Homo sapiens: one gene and its partners. The protein of the gene in region 1 purifies or fractionates together with the protein of each later gene. This does not show direct contact. Each region holds a gene or a part of one and is shown on either strand. Other genes may lie near its edges. The genes, in order: CDKL5, UBAP2 and RABL6.

Evidence for each region.
Region 2: the proteins of CDKL5 (region 1) and UBAP2 purify together in Homo sapiens (affinity purification with mass spectrometry, with the first as the bait; one large-scale study listed by BioGRID). This does not show direct contact.
Region 3: the proteins of CDKL5 (region 1) and RABL6 purify together in Homo sapiens (affinity purification with mass spectrometry; 2 studies listed by BioGRID and IntAct, with this or other methods). This does not show direct contact.

Annotation. Positions count from the first base shown.
Region 1 is NC_000023.11:18,628,010-18,631,659, forward strand, and holds part of CDKL5 (cyclin-dependent kinase-like 5), read left to right. Parts: intron 1-361; coding exon 362-748; 3' UTR 749-3,650. UniProt on the Homo sapiens protein: Mediates phosphorylation of MECP2. May regulate ciliogenesis.
Region 2 is NC_000009.12:34,038,784-34,042,433, forward strand, and holds part of UBAP2 (ubiquitin-associated protein 2), read right to left. Parts: intron 1-3,650. UniProt on the Homo sapiens protein: Recruits the ubiquitination machinery to RNA polymerase II for polyubiquitination, removal and degradation, when the transcription-coupled nucleotide excision repair (TC-NER) machinery fails to resolve DNA damage. May promote the degradation of ANXA2.
Region 3 is NC_000009.12:136,814,374-136,818,023, reverse strand, and holds part of RABL6 (rab-like protein 6), read right to left. Parts: intron 3,542-3,650; exon of another isoform or gene 3,474-3,541; intron 3,255-3,473; exon of another isoform or gene 2,493-3,254; intron 1-2,492. UniProt on the Homo sapiens protein: May enhance cellular proliferation. May reduce growth inhibitory activity of CDKN2A.

The DNA of each region.
Region 1 (3,650 bases):
CCTTTGGGAAGTCTTCTCAAAACAGAGAAACATACACCTTTTGCTTTCTCCTTCCTGCTGGTTGAAGCATGAGATCCCCTGATTAGAGATAGGATGCAACCAGGTAGATGAGCCTGGGCCTTTGATTGGCTGCCGTACCAGCTCTATATGTCTTATCTAGATTTCTAGGCTTTTCCATTAAATAATAATACAGTCTTGTTTGAAAAAACCCGAAGAACAGATATGGCTGGACCGGCTCCTCCTTGCACATGCTTGCCCTTCCTGGCCACACCCAGTCACCTCACCTCTAAGCCCCCTTCCCTCCCCAGCCTTATGGTCGCTCTAACTTGAATCCTGTGTGCATTCTCATCCTTTCTTTCAGAGCCAGCCATTAAAATCACTGCGCAAGTTGTTACATCTCTCTTCGGCCTCAAATCACCCGGCTTCCTCAGATCCCCGCTTCCAGCCCTTAACAGCTCAACAAACCAAAAATTCCTTCTCAGAAATTCGGATTCACCCCCTGAGCCAGGCCTCTGGCGGGAGCAGCAACATCCGGCAGGAACCCGCACCGAAGGGCAGGCCAGCCCTCCAGCTGCCAGGTCAGATGGATCCTGGTTGGCATGTGTCCTCTGTGACCAGGAGTGCCACAGAGGGCCCTTCCTACTCTGAACAGCTGGGTGCCAAAAGTGGGCCAAATGGGCACCCCTATAACAGAACAAATCGCTCACGAATGCCAAATCTGAATGATTTAAAAGAGACAGCCTTGTAATTTGTGCTGGTAGGGGGGAGGGGTGGACAGACAAGCCAGTGGGGAGGGGTGGGAAAGGGTGGGCTGGGCTTGGGGCATGGGCCGGGCCAAGTGGTGAGCCAATATTTTCAGCTTTATGAAGGTGTGTGCAATATTGCATGTGTTGGGGCCGTTGAGCTCCTCGCGGCCACAAATGCTAGTCAGGGATCTTAGAGCCACAGGAGTTCCTTAGGGATCGCCACTCCCCACAGGTCTTGTGTGAGAATAGATAGAGTGTGCCATTGAGGAAGAAGAAATTCTTGCCAGTTTCTCCCCTTTACATTCCAGCTTTAGTGCAATCTCTGTTGAACTTGGGAATGCCAGGATGTGTCCTGGCACTGCAAGGGATAGGAAAGTCGTGTTGACCGATGCCCTTACTACATATTTTTTTCTGCCTAGAGTAAATGTGGGGTTTATTGTAATCCAAGAGTATCCCTTTGAAGGGTTAGCAGATGAACTGTATGTCTTAAATTGTTTTCTAAACTTCCATATTTGATAGGATTTGTAACATTTATTTATAATTAATATTGTACTGTTAAAATCATATCTTTTATGTTATAATGTAAAGTTATTTTGAGCTGTTTGAAACATTGTGAAGCAGTGGGACAGCTACAGTAGTTTCTATAAAAACTAAACAGTAACATTTATATATTGCATCAGGAGTATTTTATTCTATATATAATATATATATATGGTAAATATCTGTTTTATAAATATATTCATTTAAAGAAAGTATCGTTATGACACTATCTGCCATATTTTTATACATTTGTGATATGAAGTGAGTATTATACTTCTACTAAAGGGAGTTGAATTGTGGCTACACGTGACTGTAACAGTATGAACCTTGCTCAACTTTGAGGCCCCAGCAGTAGCCTCTAGACATGATCCTTGGTAGCAGACGAGATGCAGCATCTCTTTCCAAACCTGCAGGGGAAGAAAGTCAGATAGGCCAGTGAGAATTCCAGCAGGCCTGGTTTCCGTCCTCACACACTTGGCTCCTGTTTGTGTCCAGGGACGTTACTTGCACACAGGGGAGAATAGATTGAGGCGTTACTCGTGGGTCTTTGTAGAGAGAATGTGCTCTTCCACTTAGCATTAGTGTAGAGCGTAGACCAAAGATTTGCCAGTGAACATTCCTTGTTGTGAGATCATAAGAGGTACCTGTCTGCAGATCTTGCAAACCATCTCTATGCTCCTGAATATTGTCCACTGTCCCGGAGACTCTTGGCTGATGGGGTGTGAGATATATGTGTGGCATTTCTATTTCTGAATGCCTTTTTTGCTATTGCTCTCTCCAATACCATATTTAAAAGGCTCCTGGAGCAATTCCAGATAGATAAAAAATTACTCTATCCATTTTTTTCTTCCTGGGGCTGTCCACTTATGACAAGATTTTCATGCACACCTGTTACGCACACAACCCCCATCAGAACAGGACCTATCTTCCCCTCATCTGATCTCTTTCAGCTCCCAAGTTACTCCCAAGTATCATCAAACCCTTTGGCCATCAAGTGTTATCCTCCCATGCCTCTGGGTCATCCTTGAGGGAAGTCACCTCAGCACCATCATCTATCAGTAGTAGTAGATTTTTGGAATTAGTCTCTGAGCAATAATACTTTTAAAGGTCCCTCCCACCCCTCAAAGAGATAACTTCTCAGTATTTATTACTTGTCCTCAAATTCTGAGTGTCAGCCCCTGCATCAAGTCAGCTATGATCAAAATGTGCTGTTACTGTTAACCCTCCCCCGAGATTTTGAGAATCATAGCTCTGATGATTATGAAGATTATAAAGACTAAGGTCCTAGTTTCCCTGAAGCTTAAATTGTGCACATATTGCATTTTTATATAAATACTATAATGTGTATTGATTATATAGATAGGTCATTTTAAGGTGCTTTTTATTTAATTTTAATGAGTGTAATAGGCACTAAAATGAAACTCGACTGGGTACTATTACTGAAAAAATTTGACTCAAACCAATAGTTTTGCATGCTCTTTAGTTCTTTTTCTGTCTTACTTCTTTCACCAGTTCAGTACTGTTTGGGTAGCTCTGAATTCTGGCTTTTCCAGGCAGCTGCTTGATGATACAAATGAGGTGGACCATCAGCAGTTTTGCCTGGACACTAATGACTCTAAAAGGGTGTGTATTTAACTCTTCTTTTTCATACTAGATCTCTACCTTGTATTCCCCCCTTGCAAACCAGAAACTACACTTTTTTTCTCTGGAAAGACTTCTCACTGTGCTATGCGCTTAGGAACTGCACGGTCCCGTTGCCATGCTGTGGCATTCGAGGCTCGTCACCTAGGGGCTGGTTTCCCATGTTGTCATCCTTGCTAACACTGGGATCTCAGATGTTTGCAGAACATTTCTATTCATGACGGTTCTTCAAAGAAGGGCTAGAATATTTGCCTTCTACCTAGAGCAAAGTAAACCTAATTGTTGAAGAGTCAATACGTACTTTTTGTACTTTCCCAGATTTGAGCCAGAAAATACCTACAGATATCTACAAATGTTTTCAACCAGTGTTTTCGAGGTAGCTCTTTAATCCTCTTCTCAGCTTTTGTCTGTTCTGACTTTTCATCCAATAAGCTGTAAGTGAACTACAATCTGCATTTCCAGCATGCAATTCTCTTCCTGCTCACGGAGGGGGATGCAAAAGTTTTCTCTCACACCTAATGGGCCCTCTCTTAGCTTTTAACTGTTGTTTTCCCCTGTTGATGAAAAATTACTGACATCACAAAGATTGCCATCCATGGTAGAAAGGACTTGATTTAAAGTCAGAAAAATTTGCCTTTTCTTTAGGAAGGGGAATTCATGACATCCATGTCCTATTATCGGCCGTAACTTCCTAAAGAAGAAAAAGGGTGAATGAAAGCTTAT
Region 2 (3,650 bases), on another chromosome or scaffold:
GACTGGGAAGTGAGGAGCGCCTCTTCCTGGCCGCCATCCCGTCTAGGAAGTGAGGAGCGTCTCTGCCCGGCCGCCCATCGTCTGAGATGTGGGGAGCGCCTCTGCCCCGCCACCCCGTCTGGGATGTGGGGAGCGCCTCTGCCCCGCCACCCCATCTGGGATGTGAGGAGCGCCTCTGCCCGACCGCGACCCCGTCTGGGAGTTGAGGAGCGTCTCTGCCCGGCCGACCCGTCTGAGAAGTGAGGAGCCCCTCCGCCCAGCAGCCGCCCCGTCTGGGAAGTGAGGAGCCCCTCCGCCCGGCAGCCACCCCGTCTGGGAAGTGAGGAGCGTCTCCGCCCGGCAGCCGGCCCGTCTGGGAGGTGGGGGGCAGCCTCCGCCCAGCCAGCCGCCCCTTCCGGGAGGGAGGTGGGGGGCAGCCCCCGCCCGGCCAGCCGCCCCGTTGGGGAGTTGGGGGGCGCCTCCGCCTGGCCGCCGCCCCGTCCGAGAGGTGGGGGGGGCGCCTCTGCCCGGCCACCCCTTCTGGGAAGTGAGGAGCCCCTCTGCCCGGCCGCCACCTCATCTGGGAGGTGTACCCAACTGCTCATTGAGAACGGGCCATGATGACGATGGCGGTTTTGTCGAATAGAAAAGGGGGAAATGTGGGGAAAAGATAGAGAAATCAGATTGTTGCTGTGTTTGTGTAGAAAGAAGTAGACATAGGAGACTCCATTTTGTTCTGTACTAAGAAAAATTCTTCTGCCTTGGGATGCTGTTAATCTATAACCTTACCCCCAACCCCGTGCTCTCTGAAACATGTGCTGTGTCCACTCAGGGTTAAATGGATAAAGGGCGGTGCAAGATGTGCTTTGTTAAACAGATGCTTGAAGGCAGTTAAGAGTCATCACCACTCCCTAATCTCAAGTACCCAGGGACACAAACACTGCAGAAGGCCGCAGGGACCTCTGCCTAGGAAAACCAGAGACCCTTGTTCACTTGTTTATCTGCTGACCTTCCCTCCACTATTGTCCTATGACCCTGCCAAATCCCCCTCTGCGAGAAACACCCAAGAATGATCAATAAATACTAAAAAAAAAAAAAAAAAAAAAAAAATACAAGCCGCACACGGTGGCTCACGTCTGTAATCCCAGCACTTTGGGAGGCCGAGGCGGGCGATCACCTGAGGTCGGGAGTTCAAGACCAGCCTGATGAACATGGAGAAACCCCGACTCTACTAAAAGTACAAAATTAGCCGGGGGCATGGTGGCACATGCCTGTAATCCCAGCTACTTGGGAGGCTGAGGCAGGAGAATCACTTGAACCCAGGAGGCGGAGGTTGCGTTGAGCCAAGATCACGCCATTGCACACTAGCCTGGGCGACAAGGGCTAGACTCCGTCTCAAAAAAAAAAAAAAATTAGCCAGGTGTGGTGGCACGTGCCTGTAGTCCCAGCTACTAGGGAGGCTGGGGCAGAAGAATCCCTTAAACTCGGGAGGCGGAGGTTGCAGTGAGCCGAGCCCACGCCATTGCACTCCAGCCTGGGTGACAGAATGAGACTCTGTCTCAAAAAAAAAAAAAAAAAAAAAAAAGGGACAGAAAACAAACACACAGGCCAGCCAACTAGAAGACTAAATATAATGGCAGACATATATCCAAAATATCTGTAATTACAACAGATATGAATGGTCTCCATGCTCTAGTTAAAGAGGTTAGCTGATGGCTCACTCCTACAATCCCAGCACTTTGTGCGGGTGAGGTGGGAAGATCACTTGAGCCCAGGAGTTCACGACCAGCCCAGCCAACATAGCGATACACTCTAATTAATTAAAAAGAAGTTAGCAAGTTGCTAACTTAACAAAGCAAAATCCAGCTATGTGGCGTTCATGAAAGATATATCTAGAACATCCCACTACAATTGGCTAAAACTAAAAAGGCAACATAAAATGTTGGCAAGGATGTAGAACTCTTAAACCACTCAGTCTTTGAGAATGAATTCCCAATTCTTAGGGCATCCACTCTGTGTATAAGCTGAACTTTTTCCAGACACCTAGAATGAAATTCATTATGTACCATCCTTGACAGATTTGAGAAAATAGTAACTCAACTTTCTGTGTTCTGTGGTTCAGCTGACAAGCCTGAGAACAACTGTGCAACATGTGGAAAACACTTTAGCATTACTTAGTAAAAGTTACACATACCCTACATACAAACCAAAAATTCCACTCTCAGTTATGTAGTCTTGAGAAAATGGACTTTGTTTGTTGTGGGCAGGGTGGCAAATGTCCACATGAGGACAAGTAAAATTGGTAATCTCAAAAAACTGGAAATGAGACAAATATCCATCAACAATGAAATAGACAACATATGGCACATCCTTACAATGTAACCTCATACTACTATAAGAAATCAACGGGCCGGGCACGATGGCTAACACCTGTAATCCCGGCACTTTGGGAGGCCGAGGTGGGCAGATCGCTGGAGGTCAGGAGTTCGAGACCAGCCTGCCCAACATAGTGAACCCACAGCTCTACTAAAAATGCAAAAAAAAAAAAAAAAATTAGCCAGGCATGGTGGTGCCTGCCTGTAATCCCAGCTACTTGGGAGGCTGAGGCAGGAGAATTGCTTGAACCCAGGAGGCAGAGGTTGCAGTGAGCCAAGATCGCACCATTGCACTCTAGCCTGGGCAACAAGAGCAAACTCCATCTCAAAAAAAAAAAAAAAAACAAACAAGAGTCCATGACCAGCCTGGCCAACATGGTGAAACCCCGTCTCTACTAAGAATACAAAAATTAGCTGAGCATGGTGGCAGGTGTCTGTAATCCCAGCTACTCGGGAGGCCGAGGCAGGAGAATTGCTTGAACCAAGGAGGCAGAGGCTGCAGTGAGCTGAGAAGCCGAGATCGTGCCACTGGCATTCCAGCCTGGGCAAAAGAGCAAGACTCCGTCTTATAAAACAAAACAAAGAAAAAAGAAATCTACATGGGGGCTGGGTGCAGTGGCTCATGCCTGTAATACCAGAACTTTGGGAGGCCGAAGCAGGCAGATCACCTGAGGTCAGGAGTTCGAGACCAGCCTGGCTAACACAAGGAAACCCCGTCTCTACCAAAAAATACAAAAATTAGCCAGGCATGGTGGCGGGCACCTGTAGTCCCAGCTATTTGGGAGGCTGAGGAAGGAGAATCGCTTGAACCCGGGAGGTGAATGTTGCAGTGAGCCAGGATCGAGCCACTGCACTCCAGCCTGAGCAACAGACTGAGACCCTATCTCAAAAAAAAGAAATCAACATGGATAAATCTCAAGCATGTAAGAGTGAAAGAATCAAGCATCAGAAGAATCATACAATTCTTACATTGAGAATAAGACTGAAAATGGGCACTATTAAACCATATGTTGCTTACGGATATACATATAAGGTAAAATTATTGTAAAAAAGTAACAGTAGGCTGGGGTGGTGGCTCATGCCTGTAATCCCAGCACTTTGGGAGCTCAGGTGGGCGGATCATGAGGTCAGGAGTTTGAGACCAGCCTGGCCAACACAGTGAAACCCCATCTCTACCAAAAATACAAAAAATTAGCCAGGCGTGGTGGCGGGCACCTATAATCCGAGCTACTCGGGAGATGGAGGCTGGAGATTCGCTTGAACTTGGGAGGTGGAGGTTGCAGTGAGCTGAGATCG
Region 3 (3,650 bases), on another chromosome or scaffold:
GCGGCGCGATCTCAGCTCATTCCAACTTGTGCCTCCCGGGTTCACACGATTCTTGTGCCTCGGCCTCCTGAGTAGCTGGGATTACAGGCGCCTGCCCTCATGCCCGGCTAATTTTTGTGTTTTCAGTAGAGACAGCGTTTCACCATGTTGGCCAGGCTGGACTCAAACTCCTGACCTCAAGTGATCCACCTGCCTCAGCCTCGCAAAGTGCTGGAATTAGAAGTGTGAGCCAGCACCCGGCCCCCTTTGCTTTTTGAAATCCACTCCTGTGTTTCGAGCTCAACTCCACCTCTCTGAAGAATAACCTTCAGTATTTATTTCTAAAAGAGCCTTTGCACAGTGAGCCTCAAGCTTCGGCAGAAGTGGAGCCAGTCACACGGCTCTCAAGTGCTCATCAGACAGAGACCTCAGCCCACGTCGGCCTCCCCTCAGCCCACGTCGGCCTCCCCACAGCCCACGTCGGCCTCCCCTCAGCCCACGTCGGCCTCCCCACAGCCCACGTCGGCCTCCCCTCAGCCCACGTCGGCCTCCCCTCAGCCACAGGTTTGCTGCGAGCTGGTCACCAGTCCACTGCATGCTCCTCTCAGGGAAGTCTTTTTGTTCTGGTTGCATCTAAGATGTTTACTTTTTAATGTTTTGAAAATTTCCAATGATGTATCTAGCTGTGGATGTTTTTAAACTCTGGACTTCTTGGAGTTTCCTGTATTTCATGAACTCTGGAAAGTCCTCAGTCTTCCCTTTCTCCTTTCTTGCTCTCTTCTCCTTCTGGAACTTGTACTGGACATGGGCTGGCATCGCCTCCTCCCTGGGCCGCACATCTCTTCCCAACACTGCTCCTCTCTTCAGCTGAGTTAGTGCTGCTTCTCGTGCTGCTTCTCCTGCTGCTGACTGATTTAACGTTAATGACTATGTTTTTCATTTCTAGAGGTTTTCATTCTGTTTCTTTTTCAAACATAAACTGTCTGCTCATGGTTTTTTGTATTTATAATTGACATAATAATTGCACATATCATGGGCATACAGTCTTGACTAGTCTTAAGATTGCTTCCTTTTACATCTTTATCAATTTTAACATACATTTGTTTTCTATTATCTTCACATTTTGAGAATGAAGAGTCTTATTTTCTCTCCCTTGAAATGAAATTTACTCCTTTTAAAAGCTAATTACCCATATACACACCTACTATATGGCCACAAACTCTTTTTTAAAAAAGCTAATTACAAGAAATCCTGTAACATCAGAAATAAGGCAAGTAAAATAATCTGATTTAATTATTTTAAAAAATTACCCCCCCCCCCTTTTTTTTGAGACAGAGTCTCACTCTGTCACCCAGGCTGGAGTGCAGTGGCGCGATCTCGACCCACTGCAACCTCCACCTCCCAGGCTCAAGCAATTCTCCTGCCTCCGCCTCCTGAGTAGCTGGGATTACAGGCATGTGCCCATCACACCCAGCTAATTTTTGTTATTTTTAGTAGAGACAGGGTTTTGCCATGTTGGCCAGGCTGGTCTCAAACTCCTGACCTCAAGTGATCCACCAACCTCGGCCTCCCAAAGTGCTGGGATTACAGGAGTGAGGCACCATGCCCAACTTAACCTCTACTTTTAAGTTAAAAAGTTAGGCTGGTCGCAGTGGCTCTCTCCTGTAATGCCAGCACTTTGGGAGGCCAAGGCAGATGGATCGCTTGGGCCCAGGAGTTTGAGACCAGCCTGGGCAACATGGTGAAACACTGTCTCTACAAAAATTACAAAACTCAGCCAGGCATGGTGGCGTGCACCTGTAGTCCCAGCTACTCAGGAGGCTGAGGTGGGAAGATTGCTTGAGCCAGGGAGGTGAAGGCTGCAGTGAGTCAAGATTGCGCCACTGCACTCCAGTTCAGGCGAAAGAGCAAGACCCTAAATAAATAAAATCAATTTCAGAATCTTTTTTTTCTCCTGCTGGTCCCTTGATCTTGGGTTTTCTTTTTTTCTGCTTAACTTCAGAATCTTAAATGTTGGCTGCAATAAGCTAAGTGATTCTCCTGGAAAACCTTTAGGATTCATCCAAGAAACGCTAAGAAGCCCTGTACTTACCTGTACTTAACCTCATGGTAAACCTGCTCTTTTACTAAACGGGATGTGAACACGACCTCTGTTCTAAGCTTGTTTTAGAAGATACAATGCAGAAAACACAGAGCTCTATTTGAGGCCCTGAGCCTTTCTTACCCTGATTCAATTTAACTCCTTCACATTCCTGCAGCTTTCCTGCAAAATATGGAATAATTTTCTTACATTTTCATACCAAGAAGAGCTTATGATTTATCTCAGATGCATGAAGGTTTAACTCCTAACCAGGCCCTCTCACAGTGCCAGCAGCATCTCCTGGGCCCATTACAAGGGCCCAGCCACCTCCCCACCCTGACAGCCTGTGCTGCAGCTGGTGTCAGCCACACCTTGCTCCTCTCCCACTCTGCACCCTGCAAAGATTTCCCATCCTCAGCAGCTTCAGACTACTTGGTGTCGAGGCAGGTAAAAACCAAGGTGACCCCAAGAAAATGGCTGCTCCCCCAAAGGAGGCAGAAGGAGGAAGTGAAGATGAGGAAATGTCAGAAGATGAAGAAGATGACAGCTGTGGAGAAGAGACTGTCACACCTCAGGAGAAAGGCAAGAAGGCTGCTGCAACCCCAGCCAAGAAGGTGACAGTTTCCCGAACAAAAAAGGCTGCAGGTGCCACACCCACCAAGAAAGCAACTGTCACTCCAGGCAAAGCAGTCGCCACACCTGCCAAGAAGGGAGCCATAGCAGGCAAAGCACTGGCAGCAGCTCCTGGCAAGAAGGGACACCCCAGCCAAGGGGGCAAAGAACGGCAAGAACGCCAAGAAGGAAGACAGCGATGAGGAGGAGGATGACTCTGAACCAGCAGTGATGAAGGCAGCAGCGGGTGCCCCTGCCTCAGGGGATGAGGACGAGGACGATGAGGACGATGCTGAGGAAGATGGCTCTGAAGCAGCACCTATGGAAACAACACCAGCCAAAGGAAAGAAAGCTTCTACAAATGCTGTTCCTGGGAAAGCCAAGAGGATGGCTGGGAATGAAGATGAAGAGGATGATGAGGACAAGGACGAGGGTGACGATGATGAAGAGGATGAAGTGATGAAGACGACAAAGAGGAGGAAGGGTCTGTCAAAGAAGCACCTGGAAAATGAAGGAAATGACCAAACAGCAGCTTCTGAAGCCAAGAAACACAAAGTGGAGAGTGAGAAGCACAGAACCAACTGTGCCTTTTTTTTTTTTTTAAGACAGGGTCTCACTCTCTCGCCCAGGTTGGACTGCAGTGGCGCAATCTTGGCTCACTGCAACCTTCACCTGCCAGGCTCAAGTGATTCTCCTGCTTCAGCCTCCTGAGTAGCTGGGATTACAGGCGTGTACCACTACCACCCGGCTAATTTTTGTATTTTTAGTAGAGACGGGGTTTCACCATGTTGGCCAGGCTGGAACGTCTTTCAATCTTTGTTGGAAACCTGAACTTTAACAAGTCTGCTCCTGAGTTAAAAACTAGTATCCATGGGCCAGGCCTGGTGGCTCACGCCTGTAATCCCAGCACTTTGGGAGGCTGAGGTGGACAGATCACAAGGTCAGGAGTTTGAGACCAGCCTGGCCAACATAATGAAAC